Linked DNA regions of Homo sapiens: region 1 is linked to region 2. A link means that fine-mapping ties the variant in region 2 to the expression of a gene that starts in the linked region. Tissue or cell type: whole blood. Region 2 holds a variant in brackets; the other region holds the start of a gene. All regions are shown on one strand. Distances are between the middles of the regions.

Region 1 (8,000 bases), 22 kb after region 2:
CTCACCCATGCTTTCTGATAATATGCAGACTATATTGAAAAAAGGTTATCTTTCCAAAATACTGGCCTTTTTGAAACGTGAGGGAAGCACTGCACAGGGCTGAAGCATCCCTTAGTGGCTATTCAGGGAACCATTATCCTGAAGATCTAAACACGGTATGATTCTCTCAGAACGATGTCGGGCTGGCTAGCTTCACACGTCCTCTCCACACCTACCCACCCGGGCCCCTGAAGCTCCCTCTACCCAAGGACAAAAGAACCCTCCCAGGACCCCATTAGCGGCCCCTCTGCTCCTTCACGGCCCATGGGATCTTGCCGTCTCCCCTTATCACTAGGGGGAGGCAACGGCTAGACCACAGTCAGGGTCTCCCGAGCCAGAGTCCTGCCCCCGGACCCTGGGGAGCATCTCTTTCTGCTGGAAAGCTGAGCGAGCGCCCTGCTTAACCTCCTGCCTCTCTGGCACCACAGGTGTAACAGAAAGAGGACATGATAAATACTGTGTCAAGACATCCTGCAAAAGCAGGGCTCCTCTAGGTGCTAGTAACTGGGTAAAGGCCCACTATGGGTTAATTCAGAGGGGCTGGGGTGGGTCATGCTCAGCGAAGCAGGCTGGTGCCAAGGCGGGCCCTGCCTTGCGTGTGCCAGGCAACACTTTACAGAGTGCTGCGCTGAGCCGGTAAACTCCAGGGCAAGTCCAGTCCTCCTGTGCCCAGGACCCTCCGGCGGCCTCCAGCTCCTGCCTCCCTCCATCCTCGGCCCCTGGGGCTCCCTCCTCTCCACCTCCAGACCCCACACCTCTCTTTCCGTGCCCTGCCCTCCCAGCCCAACCCCTACTCCCATTCCTCCTCCGAGAGATGTCACGTCCTCACCCCAACACCCAGCCCTGGTGAGGCCCATTTACAAACTCTCCCAGCACCTGACGCTTAAGATCACAGACCCACCGGGCCGTCACCACACAGCTCAGCTGTCCTTATGTGCTGCCATGTCTACCGTGCTGCCCTGGAAGACCCCAGTGGCAGGAACCACCTGGTTGTCCCCTGCATCATGGCCATCCTGAACGCCACAGTTGGTAGCGCTGGTTGATTAAGTCACATGTACTCCAAGCAACACCTGAGACCCCCGTCGCTGACAACACCTTCTTAAGAGACCCTGGCAGCTCCGAGCCAGACCTCATGTTACTATGCGTTTACCGGTCAACGGGGGTGCCCCTGAAATACCTGCTCGTCTACATGATGGAAACAGCCCAGGAGGCACTGGGCAAGAGGAGATTCTAACGACACCTCAGCACTTGCCAGCACAGGCCCTGCGTGTGAGAACATCTCCTGCCGCTCCCACTTCCTCATCGCGGGTGTAACAGCGCTGCACGCCGGTGCCCCTCAGAACAGGAAGGGCCTGCCTCCCACTGCTCCCTGCCTGCTCAGCACCTGATGCATTCAAAATCAGTCCTACACCCCAGTGGGGTTCCAGATGAGGAACAAGTTCCCAGGAGGCAGAGGATGTCTCCCAGACCACACAGCAAGGAAGGGGCCATCCTGCCTGGCCACCATGCCCCCCTGCTCTCCAGGAGGACACAACAGCAGGGTGCTGGTTCCCTTGTTGCTCTGAGTCTCCTGTTAGGCAGAAAGGAGCACTTGGCTGCCACGGCAACTTGCGGGGACTCACTGTGGTGGAGTAAAGATGAAGAGGTAGAGACGCTGCCATCAGAGGCCGTCCAGGACCTCTGCCGACCCGTAGGCTCCACACCTGAGTCTCATAAGTGTCAGGAGGTTTCCTTCAAAGTCCTCAGAAAAAGCAGCTATGCCCAAAACCTGGGGCTTCATTCTAAACTCAGAAAAAATGTTCTACCTGAAGAATTATCTCCTCGGGAGAAACACCAGGACTTGTGGATACAGTGTTAAGGGTGGGGAGCCCTGGTGACCCCTCCACCACGTCCAGTACTGGGCTGCGCGAGGGCAGGGACCTTGGAGCATCGTGAAAAAGGACTTTTTCCACCCACGGCATGTTCAGAGCCACTGTTGATAAAAACTGTACCGCTCACGACAGCCTGCCCCAGCCCAGCCTCAGTGAGTGACACGGTTTGAATCTGTGTCCCCGCCAAATCTCACGCTGAATTATGATCCCCAATGTTGGAGGTGGGGCCTGGCAGGGTGGGTGTGTGGGTCACAGGGACAGATCCCTCGTGGCTTGGTGCTGTCCCGGTGATAGTGAGTTCTCACAAGATCTGGTCATTACAGTGTGTGGCACCTCCCCACCCCCAACTCTCTTGCTGCTTTCGCCATGTGACGTGTAAGCTCCCACTTGGCCTTCCGCCATGACTGGGAGCTTCCAGAGGCCTCCCCAGGAGCAGATGCCGGCACCATGCTACCTGTACAGCCTGCAGAACCGGGAGCCAATTAAATCTCTTTTCTTACAAATTACCCAGTCTCGGTATTCCTTTACAGCAATGCAAGAAGGCCCTAACAGTGAGCCAGGAGGCCACTCACGCCAGGAGCCCATCATCTCTGAGTCAGTCTACACCAGCTCTCCTGCAATATTAATGCTATAGAAGAAACTGCCAGGCAACTCTCAGGAGAGAATTCAGAGCAGGAAAGGTTCTCTGAAGTTCCTGGCGCCTATCCTCTCATTTGCAAATGAAGAAACTGAGGTTTTGCACGGTGGCCACTAACCGGGGACACAATTGGGCCCAAGAAGTGGTCACCACTGCCCTCACTCTGTGTAAATGAGAAAGAGGAAACAGCCATCATCTATGGGACCAACTAGAGTGCAGGCCCGCCTCCACCTGGGGGGCCATCAGGGTGCGGGACCCGCCTCCACCTGGGGGGGCCATCAGGGTGCGGGGCCCGCCTCCATCTAGGGTGCCATCAGGGTGCGGGACCCGCCTCCACCTGGGGGGCCATCAGGGAGCAGGGCCCGCATCCATCTAGGGGACCATTAGGGTTCAGGGCCCGCCTCCACCTGGGGGACCATTAGGGTGCGGGGCCCTCCTCCATTCGGGAGTCAGAGCTCGGGGCCGCCTCCATCTGGGCACCGGGCCCTCCTCCATCTGGAGACCATTGGGGAGCGGGGCCTGCCTCCCTCTGGGGCACCATGGGGCACGGGGCCCGCCTCCATCTGGGGCTCACAACGGGCGCAGGCCCCCTCCCCCGGGGCTGCCTCCCCAAAGCTCTGCCCCGGCACGGCGGTGAGCTCAAGCCTCCTGCAGCGTGGGCGCGTCCGTCCGGCCCGCCCCGCCCCGAGGTGTGGACGCCGCCGCTCCCCTCCGGCCGGCCAGGCGCCCCGCGTGCCCCGGGAGAGCCGCGGAGTCGGCCCGCCAGCCGCAGCTGAGCAGTAGCCCTGACCCAAGGCCCCGCCCGCAACCGCAGGTCACCGCCCCCGCCCGACCCTCGCCCGGCTGCCTCACCGGCCCGCGCTGAGTGCTGACGGTGGTCGCCATGGTGCTGCGGCGGCCCCCGTGGCTCGCCGACCCGACAGTGACGCGCCGGGCGACCTCCTGCGCCCCCGCCGGAGCCTGCGACGGAGACAGTTGTCACCTCGAGGCCGCCGCCGCCACAGTCAGCTGACAGCCGCCGCGCCCCGCCCCCGGCACCGCCCCACTGCGCAGGCGCCGCGCCAGGCACCGCCCCTTCCGGCTCTCGCGCGCACGCGCGCTCCAGGGTAGGGCAGGCGCAGCCTCTCGCCCGGCGCCTGCGCACCTGCTCTCTCCTCGAGCCCTGCAGCCCGGCGAAATGGCTCCCGGCGGGGCCGTTTGCGCATGCCCAGTCATGACGGTTGTCGGCGCGGGCCCTAGCGTGGCGGCGCTGCAGTCTGGGCAGTGGGTTGGTTCCTCCTCGGTCCTCTGTCGAGTGGCGACAGGGCCTAGCCACCTGGCGGGGGTGACCTTCGGACGTGCGACCCGCTCGGAGAAGGGAGGGAACTGTGGCCCGCAACAAAGCAGTGACAGGCCCGACATCCCCTGCAGGGCGATCTTTCCCTCAGCTGCCTGCCGGAGGAAGGGCCTTTCTGTTTCACAGGGCTAAAGATGGGGCGCGGTTCCTCCACGGGGCGGCTGCCGGGTGAACGGAACGGGGATGGAGGCGCTGCCAGAAGAGCCCGAGCTCGAGCCCGCCCTGCCCTCGGCCTCCCCGCCGCGCCGCTCCGCAGGAGCCCCGCTCCTCTCCTGCTCGCTCCGGAGAACCCCAGTCCGGCCTGACCTCGGCCCTCGCGGTCAGGCGCTCCAACCAGAGCGACTCCAGCTCGAACAGCGCTGGGTAAACTGAGGCTGAACCCCGCTGGCTGCATCCCCAGGAGTCGGGCGTTTACGGTCACGGGAACAGGTTAATAAACTTTTACGCAGCAGACCCGGAACTTAGGTCCCGATGTCCGGGTATCTTAAGAACAAGAAGCATTCTTAGTTGAAGTTTCGCTTTAAAGATAATGATACAGATGCTTGCGGAGGACAGGCGTTATGCAAAGATTGGCAATCCTTTGACGAGCCCAGGTAGTACAGCACGTCTCCCCCGTGATGTTTTTTGGCTTTTATCTTACATATAAACAAGCGTACCCAGGTGGACGCCTTCCTCCTCGTGCTTTTGGGAACACCCTGCTCTATGGAGTAGCCATTCTTTTATTCCTTCACTGCCTTAATAAACTTGCTTTCACTTTACTCTGTGGACTGGCCTGGAATTCTTTCTTCCACAAGATCCACGAATCCTCTTTTGGGGTCTGGATCAGGACCCTTTTCCGGTAACACAACCACTCCACTAAAAACTCTTTGTCAGTGATCTCTATATTGTTAGTGGTCAGTTCTCAGTCCTCGTCCTCCGGGAACTACAGCAAAATCGATAGTCATTCTTGCTACACATGCTTTCTTCACTCCCCATCCAGGACACCATGTGCTCTCACTTTCCTCTTATCCCAAAGACCACATCTTTGGGTCTCGGTTACCAGTCTCTCCTTTTAAAACCGGCAGCCTGGCCGCTTGCCTGTTTTGATGGGGTGTAGAGAAAAAGAACGAAAGCCCCTTCCTCAAGTTGTAGCTTAACATCCAGCCAATCCACAGCACAAGACCCAAGAAGCTATTAACCACAAGTTCCTGCTTTGGGGGCCTAGGGACTTCCCCGGGCCCCACATGTGCAGTTAGACTTATACTTCAACTATTGTTACCCCTTCCTCATTTTCACGCTAAAAATCACACCTAGGGGTAGAGATTTAAAATGTGAATGTTGCATGCAATGCATGAAGAAGCATGCAAAGCTACTGAGAAGCACTAGACAAACCCCTCCTATCCATGCCTGGACCAATCCCTTCCCTGTGAAACTAACCCACGTGCCACCCCCTGGCGGCGGGGCCCCCCACCGTTTTCCTTTCATGGTGCTGACTTCCTTGTGCACAAGCTAAATAAAGATTTCTCTTTCTCCTCGCTGCTATGTCTGCTGATCTCTCTTTATTTCTATCCTGGGAGATTACAAGATGCCAGGGCACACTGGTAACACTTTGACTCCTTAACATCGGAGTGCCTTACCTCAGGGCTCAGTCCTTGCACATCTTTTCTATCTACATCCTCAGTGAGCTCATCCAGTTCCATTCCTTTAAATGCCATCCATATGCTGATGATCCTAAAATCTGTATCTCCCACCAGGACCTCCGCTAAACACTAGATTCAGCTCTTGCCTTAATATTATTCCCCTATGGGGTGGACAGGTTGTAAGGTAGACATATGATCCCTGCCTCCTGGTGTTCACATCCTTGAATAATCCTCTTGTCTTGAGGGTGGACAGAGCCTGTGGCTTGCTTTTAAACAACAGAATATGGCAGTGGTGATGGGATGTCCCTCCCATGATTACCTGATGTTATAAAAGACTCCATCTTGCTCTCAGACTTATTCTCAAGGGTCTCTCAGCTGCTGGCTTTGAAGAGGCGAGGTGCCATAATTCCTACAACTTCAAGGAAACAAATTCTGCCAGGAATCTGAGGGGGCTTTGATCCTTCCCCAGTCAAGCCTCCAGATGAGAATGCAACCCAGCTGACAACTTAATTATAGCCTCGTAAGACCCAAGAATAAGCCAGCTAAGCTGTGCCTGAACTCCTACCCCACAAAAACTCTGAGATAAGTGTGTGTTGTTTTAAGCCACTAAGCTTACAGCCACGTGATCTGACTTAAGCATTATTAGAATTCCAGAAGAAAAAAGGAGAATGAGGCAGAAAATCTGAAGAAATAATGGCCAATAATTCTCCAAGTTAATGGTAGGCACCAAACAAAATATTTAGGAAGCAATGGATTCCAAACAAATAAACAAAACACTTAGTCAGGTCATATTCACACTGCTGATAACAGAAAGCAAGGAGAAACTCTTAAAAGCAGACAGAGGAAAATGACACATTACATCCAGAAGAATGAAGATTAGAATAGCAGACTTCTCATTGGAAAGAAGGTAAGTCATGTGAATGGAGTGACATCTTTAAAGTGCTAACAGAAAAAAAATTATATGTCAATTGAAATTTCTTGCAAAATGATATGGCGATGTATTTCAGAACAGTGGTTATCTATGTGTGTTGGAAGTGAGGGACTGGAGATTGACTAGACAGGACCATGAGGGAACTTTCTGGGGTGGTAGAAAGATTATATACCTTGATTGGGATGGAGTGGTTATACCAATGTGTAAATTTATCAAAACTCACATGATTGTAAACTTATGATTTGTGCATTCTGATGTATGTATGTAAGTTTTATCTCAATAAAAGGTTAATGACAAAAAGAAAACACTTTCAATATATATGACAGAGTTAGTCTAAATGTATTAAGAGTGCCTACAAATTTCTAAAAAGAAGACATACAGGCTGGGCGTGGTGGCTCATGCCTGTAATCCCAACACTTTGGGAGGCCAAGGTAGGTGGATCACTTGAGGTCATGAGTTCAAGACCAGCCTGGCCAACATGGTGAAACCCTGTCTCTTCTAAAAATACAAAAAAAAAAAAAAAAAAATAGCCTGGCGTGGTGGCACATGCCTGTAATCCCAGCTACTTGGGAGGCTAAGGAAGGAGAATTGCTTGAACCTGGCAGGCAGAGGTTGCAGTGAGCTGAGATCATGCCACTGCACTCCAGCCTGGGCGACAGAGCAAGACTCTTTCTCAAAAAAAAAAAAAAATGTCTATTCATGTCCTTTGCCCACTTTTAAGTGGGATTTTTTGATTTTTTACTGTTGAGTTGTTTGTATATTCTGGATATTAGTCCCTTGTTGGATGAATACTTCGCAAATATTTTCTCCCATTCAGCAGGTTGTCTCCTCACTCTGCTGATAATTCCCTTTGCTGTGCAGAAACTTTTTAGTTTAATATAGTCCCATTTGTCTATTTTGTTTTTATTGCCTGTGCTTTTAAGATCTTAGCCATAAAATCTTCGCCTAGACCAGTGTCCTTAAGTGTTTTTCCTGTGTTTTCTTCTAGTAGTTTTATACTTTCAGGTCTTACTTTAAGTCTTTAATTCATCTTGATTTGACTTTTGCAGATGGTGGGAGATAGGAGTCCAGTTTCATTCTTCTTCATCTGGATGTCCAATTTTCCAAGCACCATTTATTGAAGAGGGTGTCCTTTCCCCACTGTGTGTTTTTGGTGCCTTTGTCAGAAATCAGTTGGCTGTAAGTATGTGGATTTATTTCTGGATTCTCTCTTCTGTTCCATTGGTCTATGTGTCTGTTTTTGTATGAATACAATGCTGTTTTGGTTATGATACTTTTGTAGTTTATTTTGAAGTTGGATAATGTGATGCCTCCAGCTTTGTTCTTTCTGCTCAGGATTGCTTTGGCTATTTGGGCTCTTTTTGTTCCATAAATATTTTAGGATTGTTTTTTCTATTGCTGTGAAAAATGATGTTGGTATTTTGATAGGCATTGTATTGAATCTATAGATTGTTTTGGGCAGTATAGCCATTTTAATAATATTAATTTTTCCAATCGGTGAGCATGGGACATCTTTCCATTTGTTTGCATCATCTTCAATTTTTTTCATCAGTGTTTTGTAGTTTTA
Region 2 (8,000 bases):
GCTCTGTCACCCAGGCTGGAGTGCAGTGGCGCAATCTCGGCTCACTGCAAGCTCCACCTCCTGGGTTCACACCATTCTCCTGCCTCAGCCTCCCGAGCAGCTGGGACTACAGGCGCCCACCACCGCGCCCGGCTAATTTGTTTGTATTTTTAGTAGAGACGGGGTTTCACCGTGTTGGCCAGGATGGTCTTGATCTCCTGACCTCACGATCTGCCCGCCTTGGCCTCCCAAGGTGCCGGGATTAGAGGCATGAGCCCCCACACCCACCCCCAGGCTGGTGGTTTTCTAAGACACTGGACACCACAGAGGCCCTCTCAGACACACGCTCTGCTCTTTCCTCTGGAGAAAGGCAGCCCTGGCACCTGCGCGGGCGGCTTCACATGGAAACAGAGTCTATAATGTGAGCAAGTGAGGGCGAGGCCATGCTGTTCTCACAGGCAGTTTTGTCCGAGAATGTCCTGAACACCAGTGGACAGCCCAGAGTCTCCCAGTGCCGTCTCCTCCTTCCCATCGTCAGGGCTGGGTTTCAGGCCACATCAGGTGGGTCTAGGGCGAGGTCCCGACTCCCAAGGTGGCCTTTCTGCATCTGTGCAGGATGCTGGCAGGACTGGGGTGCTGACCAGGCCTCTCCACTCCAGCTGGGCTGGACACCAGCACTGGCCTCACAGCACTCTCGCCTGCCAGCAGCTCTGTCCCGCCCCAACCCCAAAGCAGCCCCTGAGCACAAGCAGCCGGGGCCTCATGCAGCCCCGAGACCCTCCCCTAACACCACCTCCCCCAACACCACCACGCATCCCTAGCGCCCTGCCCGCAACTTGGCCACTTCCATGGCCTGGGCCTCTGGCCTCCACCCTCCGTGCAGAGGGACCAGTGCTCTGCCTGGACACCAGCTCCCCAGAACGAGAGAGGCCACCTCAGCAGGAGAACCAGGGTGACCACAGGCTCCCCCCTAGCACCTCCTCTCAGGGGCTGCGGTCTCCCCGCCTGCTAAAGACGGCTGGGCCCATCCATGGTGGGGGCCGGTCTTGCACCAGCAGCTACCACAGTCACAGCTGGACCGAAAATGCAACAGCATGAAAAGCGACATCCCAGCTTGGTGTTGCTGCAGCCACAGGCTGCTCACTCCTAACAGTGACACACGACAACAGACGCAACAGCGCAGTAGAGAGCACGCATCACCCAACAGGAGCGTGAGGTTCAGACACAACGGCGCAGCGCAGGGCACGCGTCACCCAATGGGCGTGAGGTTCGGACACGACGGCACAGTGCAGAGCACGTGTCACCTGACAGGGGCGTGAGGTTCTCCTGCACAGAGCTGGGCACAACGGGGTTTCAAAGCCACATTTCCACATCTCTGAAAATTTCAACTCACCTCATTTCTGCCAACAATTAGAAAAAAAAAAAAAAAACAATTCTATTTTCTAGATATGCAAACAAAATTCAAACGTAAGCCTTGGCTTCCTGGCCTGAAAGGATCTGTGTGCGGTCAGCACGTCTACAGGATTCTAGAATGGATGACGTCCCCACCCCGGCGCTCTAAGCCCCGTTCCCTCCTCCCGCACCTGCCCTAGGCCCTGGGGTTTCTACCAGGGGAGAGGCACCCAGGGAGGGAGCACACGCACCTGTGATGGGCACATAGCCAACGCCCTGCTGGTACACTGTTGGCATCAGGACCACGGGCTGGGGTGGCATCACCATGGCAGCTGGAAGCAGCTGAAACACAGCGGAGATGGTCCCGGGGTCAAGGAGGAACATCCACCCATCAGAACCTCGGGAATCGCCCTCCCCACAATTGCCCTCCCCACGCCAGCCCAGAATCGCCCTCCCCATGCCAGCCCAGAATCACCCTCGCTACACGAGCCCTGAGTGCACAGGGGACGCTGGGCCCTGCTCCCACCCCTGCACCACCTCCTCAAATCCAGGAGGTGACATGGCTCGGGCTTACAGACCCCCTTCTAACTGGGATGTGACTGAGAGAGGATGGTGACAGGAGGGACATCCCAGTGTAGGTGTCGAGTCGGCCTGGGGGGAACCACACTGCACTGCTGTGGTGTCTGAGTTTGAAAGTGTCAACTTCACATAAGTCACTGCACTGCTGTCAACTCTGAGTTCAAAACTGTCCACTGTGGATAAGTCACTGCACCACTGTCACCTCTGAGTTCAAAACTGTCAACTGCGGATAAGTCACTGCACCGCTGTCGTCTCTGAGTTTAGTTCAAAACTGTCCACTGCGGATAAGTCACTGCACTGCTGTCTCCTGAGTTCAAAACTGTCAACTGTGGATAAGTCACTGCACCGCTGTCATCTCTAAGTTTAGTTCAAAACTGTCCACTGTGGATAAGTCACTGCACTGCTGTCTCCTGAGTTCAAAACTGTCCACTGCGGATAAGTCATTGCACTGCTGTTGTCTCTGAGTTCAAAACTGTCAACCGTGGATAAGTCACTGCACTGCTGTCGTCTCTGAGTTTAGTTCAAAACTGTCCACTGCAGATAAGTCACTGCACTGCTGTCTCCTGAGTTCAAAACTGTCCACTGCGGATAAGTCACTGCACTGCTGTTGTCTCTGAGTTCAAAACTGTCAACTGTGGATAAGTCACTGCACCGCGGTTGTCTCTGAGTTCGAAACTGTCAGCTGCGGATAAGTCACTGCACCACTGTCGCCTCTGAGTTCAAAACTGTCAGCTGCGGATAAGTCACTGCACCGCTGCCGTCTCTGAGTTCAAAACTGTCAGCTGTGGATAAGTCACTGCACCGCTGTCTTCTGAGTTCGAAACTGTCAACTGCGGATAAGTCACTGCACCACTGTCGTCTCTGAGTTCGAAACTGTCAACTGCAGGTAAAATCACTGGAGCGTCATGATGGTTCTGTGTTTGTATGAAAGCGTCTGTTAAAGACGTGTCATGAGACATTTACACATCGTCACTCACGGCCGGGACATGATTTAAAATATCCCAGCTTTAACAAAAAGGGGGTGGGAGGAGCCAAGATGGCCCAGAAAAGCAGCTCCCTGCTGCTGCCTCCCCGCCGCAGCCTCCCCGCCGCACCCTCCCCGCCGCAGCCTCCCCGCCGCACCCTCCCCGCCGCAGCCTCCCCGCCGCACCCTCCCCGCCGCACCCTCCCCGCCGCAGCCTCCCCGCCGCAGCCTCCCCGCCGCAGCCTCACCGCCGCAGCCTCCCCGCCGCAGCCTCCCCGCCGCACCCTCCCCGCCGCAGCCTCCCCGCCGCACCCTCCCCGCCGCAGCCTCCCCGCCGCAGCCTCCCCGCCGCACCCTCCCCGCCGCAGCCTCCCCGCCGCACCCTCCCCGCCGCAGCCTCCCCGCCGCAGCCTCCCCGCTGCACCCTCTCTGCCGCAGCCTCCCCGCCGCAGCCTCCCCGCCGCACCCTCCCCGCCGCAGCCTCCCCGCCGCACCCTCCCTGCCGCAGCCTCCCCGCCGCAGCCTCCCCGCCGCACCCTCCCCGCCGCAGCCTCCCTGCCGCACCCTCTCTGCTGCAGCCTCCCTGCTGCACCCTCCCTGCTGCACCCTCTCTGCTGCACCCTCTCTGCTGTCACATCTGCCTGGCATTTCCCACAGCACCATTTTTCAGTAACAGCCTGAAAATCCTCTGGTTGATGATACAGACGAGACGGCAGGAGCTCTGCGTCTTGGAGCCTCTAACTGGCCCTCCTGATGCCCCCAGGAGCTGCAGGTGCCCTGAGAATGGAGATGGCTGGGAGCCAGGGCGCTGACGTGCTGGCCCCACAGCCAGGCCTCGACTTCCTGACCCTGAGCACAGCAGCCCCCAGGCTTCCCCGACATCTCCAGAGATGCCCTGCCACACCACGGCCAATGCCTGCCCTGTGGGGAGGAGCCTGGTGTCCTGCAGGGCCCAGGGCTGTATCTCAGACCCTGGAGGGCTGCTCAGCTGGACCCTAAGGGCAGAGCTTGGAAGGGCTGTGGGGGTCCTCCGAGGACACAGGGGCCTGCAGTGGAGACCACCACAAAGGGTTGGCTCATCTTAGGAACACAAACAACCCCTATGCTGTTTCCCCAGACAGAGAACATGGGCAGGAGCAGTGGGCAGGGCAGCCCCTCTCTGCCACCAAACCACCCAGGGCCCCTGCCCTCTGTCCTCAGAACGTGAGCCCTGCTGTTTTATGGGCTCAGTGCCTCCAGGAAAGAGACAAGGGTGTCTG[T/C]GGGGCGGCATAGCCCCGACGTGCTCCAACATACCCCAATGCGCCCCACCCCGCCCAGGCGTGCAGCTCACCGCGTAGGACATGACGAGGTTGATCATGCCCTCCTTGTCGTCCCCCTGCCTCCCGCTCAGGCTGTACCACTTGTCCTCCACCTTGCCCTGCCTCAGGGACTCCGGGATGGTGATGTGGGTCCAGGCAATGCGGTCGTCCATGGAGAAGGCTCTCTGCGGGAGACAAGAGGGAGAGGCCCCAGGCATCAGGGAAGGGGCCACCCTGCCCCTGCAGCCGCACCATCGTGGGCCCGCCTCGAGTCCCCGTCTTATCTGTGGAACAGGGCTCCCACCTGCACCAACACCCCATCGATGAGACCCCTCGGGCAGCGCAGGCTTCACGATCGTATATCAGCCTCCGTAGGGGACTTCTTCCCTCTCTCCACCAGGATGGGCCAGGGCCAGGGCCAGGGCCAGGTCTGGGGCTGGGGAAAGCGAGGGCCCTGGGCTGCTGTCCTCCTTCAGTTCCACTTCAGGGACACTGGCTGCTCCTCCCCAGCCCTCGGGGCCCCATCCTTGCTCCACCGGCTGCCACCTGTCAAGCCCCAGAGCAGCCGGGGTGCAGACTGGAAAGGACACGGGGTCTGCCTCCCACAGCTGACTCTGCACTTCCCATGCGCTCTCTACTCTTCTGAGGGCCAGGGAGGGGAAAGCAGGTAGGGACGGGGAGAGAAAAGCCGGGAGGAAAAGGCAGGGCCCAGGCAGGGAGGGCTGGCCGTCTGCTGGCCTGGCTGCCCCACACTGCTCCCCGGCCCCCACCCAGTCTCTAGCCTCACAATGCCACAGGTGCGAGGTGCCAGGACCACACTGAGCAGCAGCCTCGCCACATCCCCTCTGACCTTCTGACTCTGCCTCAGAAGCGCTGCAGGTGCAGCCACGGACGGGACTCAGGACCCTCAAGGGTCACGACCATTCGCACCACCAAGAACAGCTTTCCCACCCAGTAGGCAGCCGCACTCTCTGGAAATCCCACCTGCTGGTGAGCGGCCGGACCCTGTGCGCCCAGCGGGGCGGACACATGCACGCTCTGTCCCTGGAAATCCCACCTGCTGGTGAGCGGCCAGACGAGTGCCCAGTGGACACGTGCACACTCTGTCCCTGGAAATCCCACCTGCTGGTGTGCGGCAAGACCCTGTGCGCCCAGCGGGGCGGACACATGCATGCTCTGTCCCTGGAAATCCCACCTGCTGGTGAGCGGCCAGACGAGTGCCCAGTGGCGGGGGACACATGCATGCTCTGTCCCTGGAAATCCCACCTGCTGGTGAGCGGCCAGATCAGTGCCCAGCGGAGGGGACACGTGCACGCTCTGTCCCTGGAAATCCCACCTGCTGGTGAGCGGCCAGACCCTGTGCGCCCAGCGGAGGGGACACGTGCACGCTGTATCCCTGGGTCATGCTTGTCACTGGGGATGTTTCCAAATGTAAGTATGTTCAAGGAGCTGGAAACAATCCCTTTTTCACATTCCTTGGGGAGAGCAGGACCCTGTCATGCACCCAATGAAACACCAGGTGGGGAGCCACGCCTCGAAGCCAGCCAGGAACGTGGCTGTGTTGGCAGGTGTGTCCCCACGGCAGCCACGCTCAGCCACGTGCAGCCTCCATAATAGCTGGCACGTCCCTCTCACCTCATCGAAGATCTCGAGATAGAAAGAGTCCACGCCTGGGGGCACCGTGCAGTGGATGACCTTATTCCAGCGGGGATTCTTGGCGCCATTGTGTGCCGTGGGCGTCTCGTACACCGCGTAGCCCAGGCGCAGTCGGCAGTAGGGGTCCATGCGGGTCATGCCGTAATTCTTGGCCAACTTTGCCTGGAATGAAGCCAATGTCAGGAAAAGGAGGTGCCAACCATCAGGAGAGGGTGGGTTCTCTAGGCCGTCTGCCTCCCTGAACCCTTCCACGAGGCCTTTTCCTAACACATAGACTACAGCCACTCAGAGTCGCCTGAACACGGCTGTGACCTGCTTCCCAGGAGGCCAGGAGCAAGAAGAGTGAGCCACAGATGGATCGTGCAGTTCTGAGACAAAGCACGTGGCTCGTCCTTGACAGCAGAAACCTACGACGCTCACAGACACAGCTGAGGCCGCCACTCACCCACCATGAAGGGCGCACTCTCTAATGCCCTCCTCAGAAGTGGCTGAGGAGGGAAAGAGGAGGAGGTCCCGGGACAGAGCTGAGAGCCAGAGCATGACATGGAGTGTGAACCTGCCCCCGGAGCATGATGACCCGGGAGAGGTGCATCCTCGCTCTAGGTGAGAGTGAGGACACCTGCTGCACATAATTCAGACGCCACGTGGCTGCTTTCCTCCCTCGTGAAGGCAGCAGCCCTGCCTGTGCTATCGGAGTACGTGGGGTTTTGGGGACTGGAACTTGTCTTTCTTGTGTCTCCCAATCACAAGGAGCCACATCACATGTAGACCATGAGATTCGACTTCAGGCCAGGTGCTCAGCTGGGCAGGGACATTTGAGGTCCTCGGGGTGGGAGTGAACGTGTGTTCAGAATAAGACAGAAGACCGTGGCAAGTAAGATGATTGTTCAGCAAACAAACTCAACATGGATGGCAGGTTCAAATATAAAACCTAAAACTGTAAAACCTTTACAAGAAAAAACCAGGAGAAAAGCCCTCGTAAGCTGGGTTGGGTTCAGCCCTGCAGCTCCGGCTGCCTGTAAAGCGTCCTGCCTGGAATGCAGACGGCCTCCCTGTACCACTGCCACCCGCTCTCCTGCAGCCAACCCGGCTCACCCCCAGGAGCTGGTGATAGAGACCCCGGGAGCCATCCCGGCCCTCCCACCCACATGGAGCCCGCCAGTTCCTCCTTCCCAGTGGAACAGAGTCCAGACACTGCCCCCCGACCCCCTCTGAGGGAACGGCCAACCTGTCCACACCAACCCCCCTCTGAGAGTACTGCCACCCTGTCCTCACCACCCACCCCCCGAAGGCACGGCCACCCCATCCTCACTGACGCCCCTCTGAGGGCACGGCCACCCTGTCCTCACTGAACCCTCTCTGAGGGCACCGCCGCCCTGTTCTCACCGCACCCCTCTGAGGGCACGGCCGCCCCGTCCTCGCTGACCCCCCGCTGAGGGCACGGCCGCCCCGTCCTCGCTGACCCCCCTCTGAGGGCACGGCCGCCCCGTCCTCACCGACCCACCTCTGAGGGCACGGCCGCCCCGTCCTCACCGACCCACCTCTGAGGGCACGGCCGCCCCGTCCTCACCGACCCACCTCTGAGGGCACGGCCGCCCCGTCCTCACCGACCCCCGAGGGCACGGCTGTCCCGTCCACGCCAACCCTCGCCGCACAGCTGAACTCTCCCCTCCTGTGCCCACATCTCTGGACTGCCAGGTCCTCTGTTTTCTATTCTTGTCCACATACAAGTTCCCTCCTTTCACTTCTAATCAAAGCTGTGGCCGGTCCTTTTAGGTCAAAACTGCCCCATTCTTGGGTCCTTAATTTTAGCGTGTTTCTTGGGTGGCCACAGCGTACTCCGGAATGCTATGGAGTGACAGTTTTCCGGAAGCTCCTGGGCGACAGGCATGCTCAGCCTCTAGCAGCTTCCAATTCCCTTCTGCTGCACACCCACACATCTGCTAGATCAGCTCTTACACTCCAAACTCTGCCCCTGTAAACTCCTTAGCAACTGCCCTATTTTCTGGAGAGTATGTAGCAGGAAAGTCTGAGACCAGCATGATTTTCCAAAGCTTTCAGGTAACTGTGCTGTCTCTGCCTAGCTGCTATGACTTATTTTTATTAATAACTTTAAAGGCTTTGAGCAAAGC

Which allele goes with the higher level. Alleles are on the strand shown, and positions count from the first base shown. SD is a standard deviation of normalised expression in the study named.
For the expression in whole blood of the gene that starts at base 3,642 in region 1, T is the low allele of the variant in region 2 and C is the other (moderate effect, 0.54 SD a copy in GTEx).

Evidence for each region. PIP is the estimated chance that this variant, and not a neighbour inherited with it, causes the effect.
Region 1: TOLLIP-DT starts here. The variant in region 2 is fine-mapped to the expression of TOLLIP-DT in whole blood (GTEx, PIP 0.90).

The regions. Positions count from the first base shown.
Region 1 is chr11:1,306,067-1,314,066 of GRCh38, forward strand. TOLLIP-DT (TOLLIP divergent transcript) reads left to right here and starts at 3,642. Exons shown (of 1, transcript NR_029409.1): 1 at 3,642-4,641. It overlaps TOLLIP (toll interacting protein), which reads right to left and starts at 3,566. Exons shown (of 6, transcript NM_019009.4): 1 at 3,400-3,566. The coding sequence starts at 3,432. RefSeq lists silencers at 3,022-3,731, 5,257-5,386 and an enhancer at 3,962-4,723.
Region 2 is chr11:1,284,380-1,292,379 of GRCh38, forward strand. It overlaps TOLLIP (toll interacting protein), which reads right to left. Exons shown (of 6, transcript NM_019009.4): 3 at 5,848-6,030; 4 at 4,245-4,397; 5 at 1,623-1,713. Among named protein-coding and RNA genes, the nearest start is that of TOLLIP, 21 kb to the right of the region's middle. The variant T/C (reference allele first, on the strand shown) is at 4,174.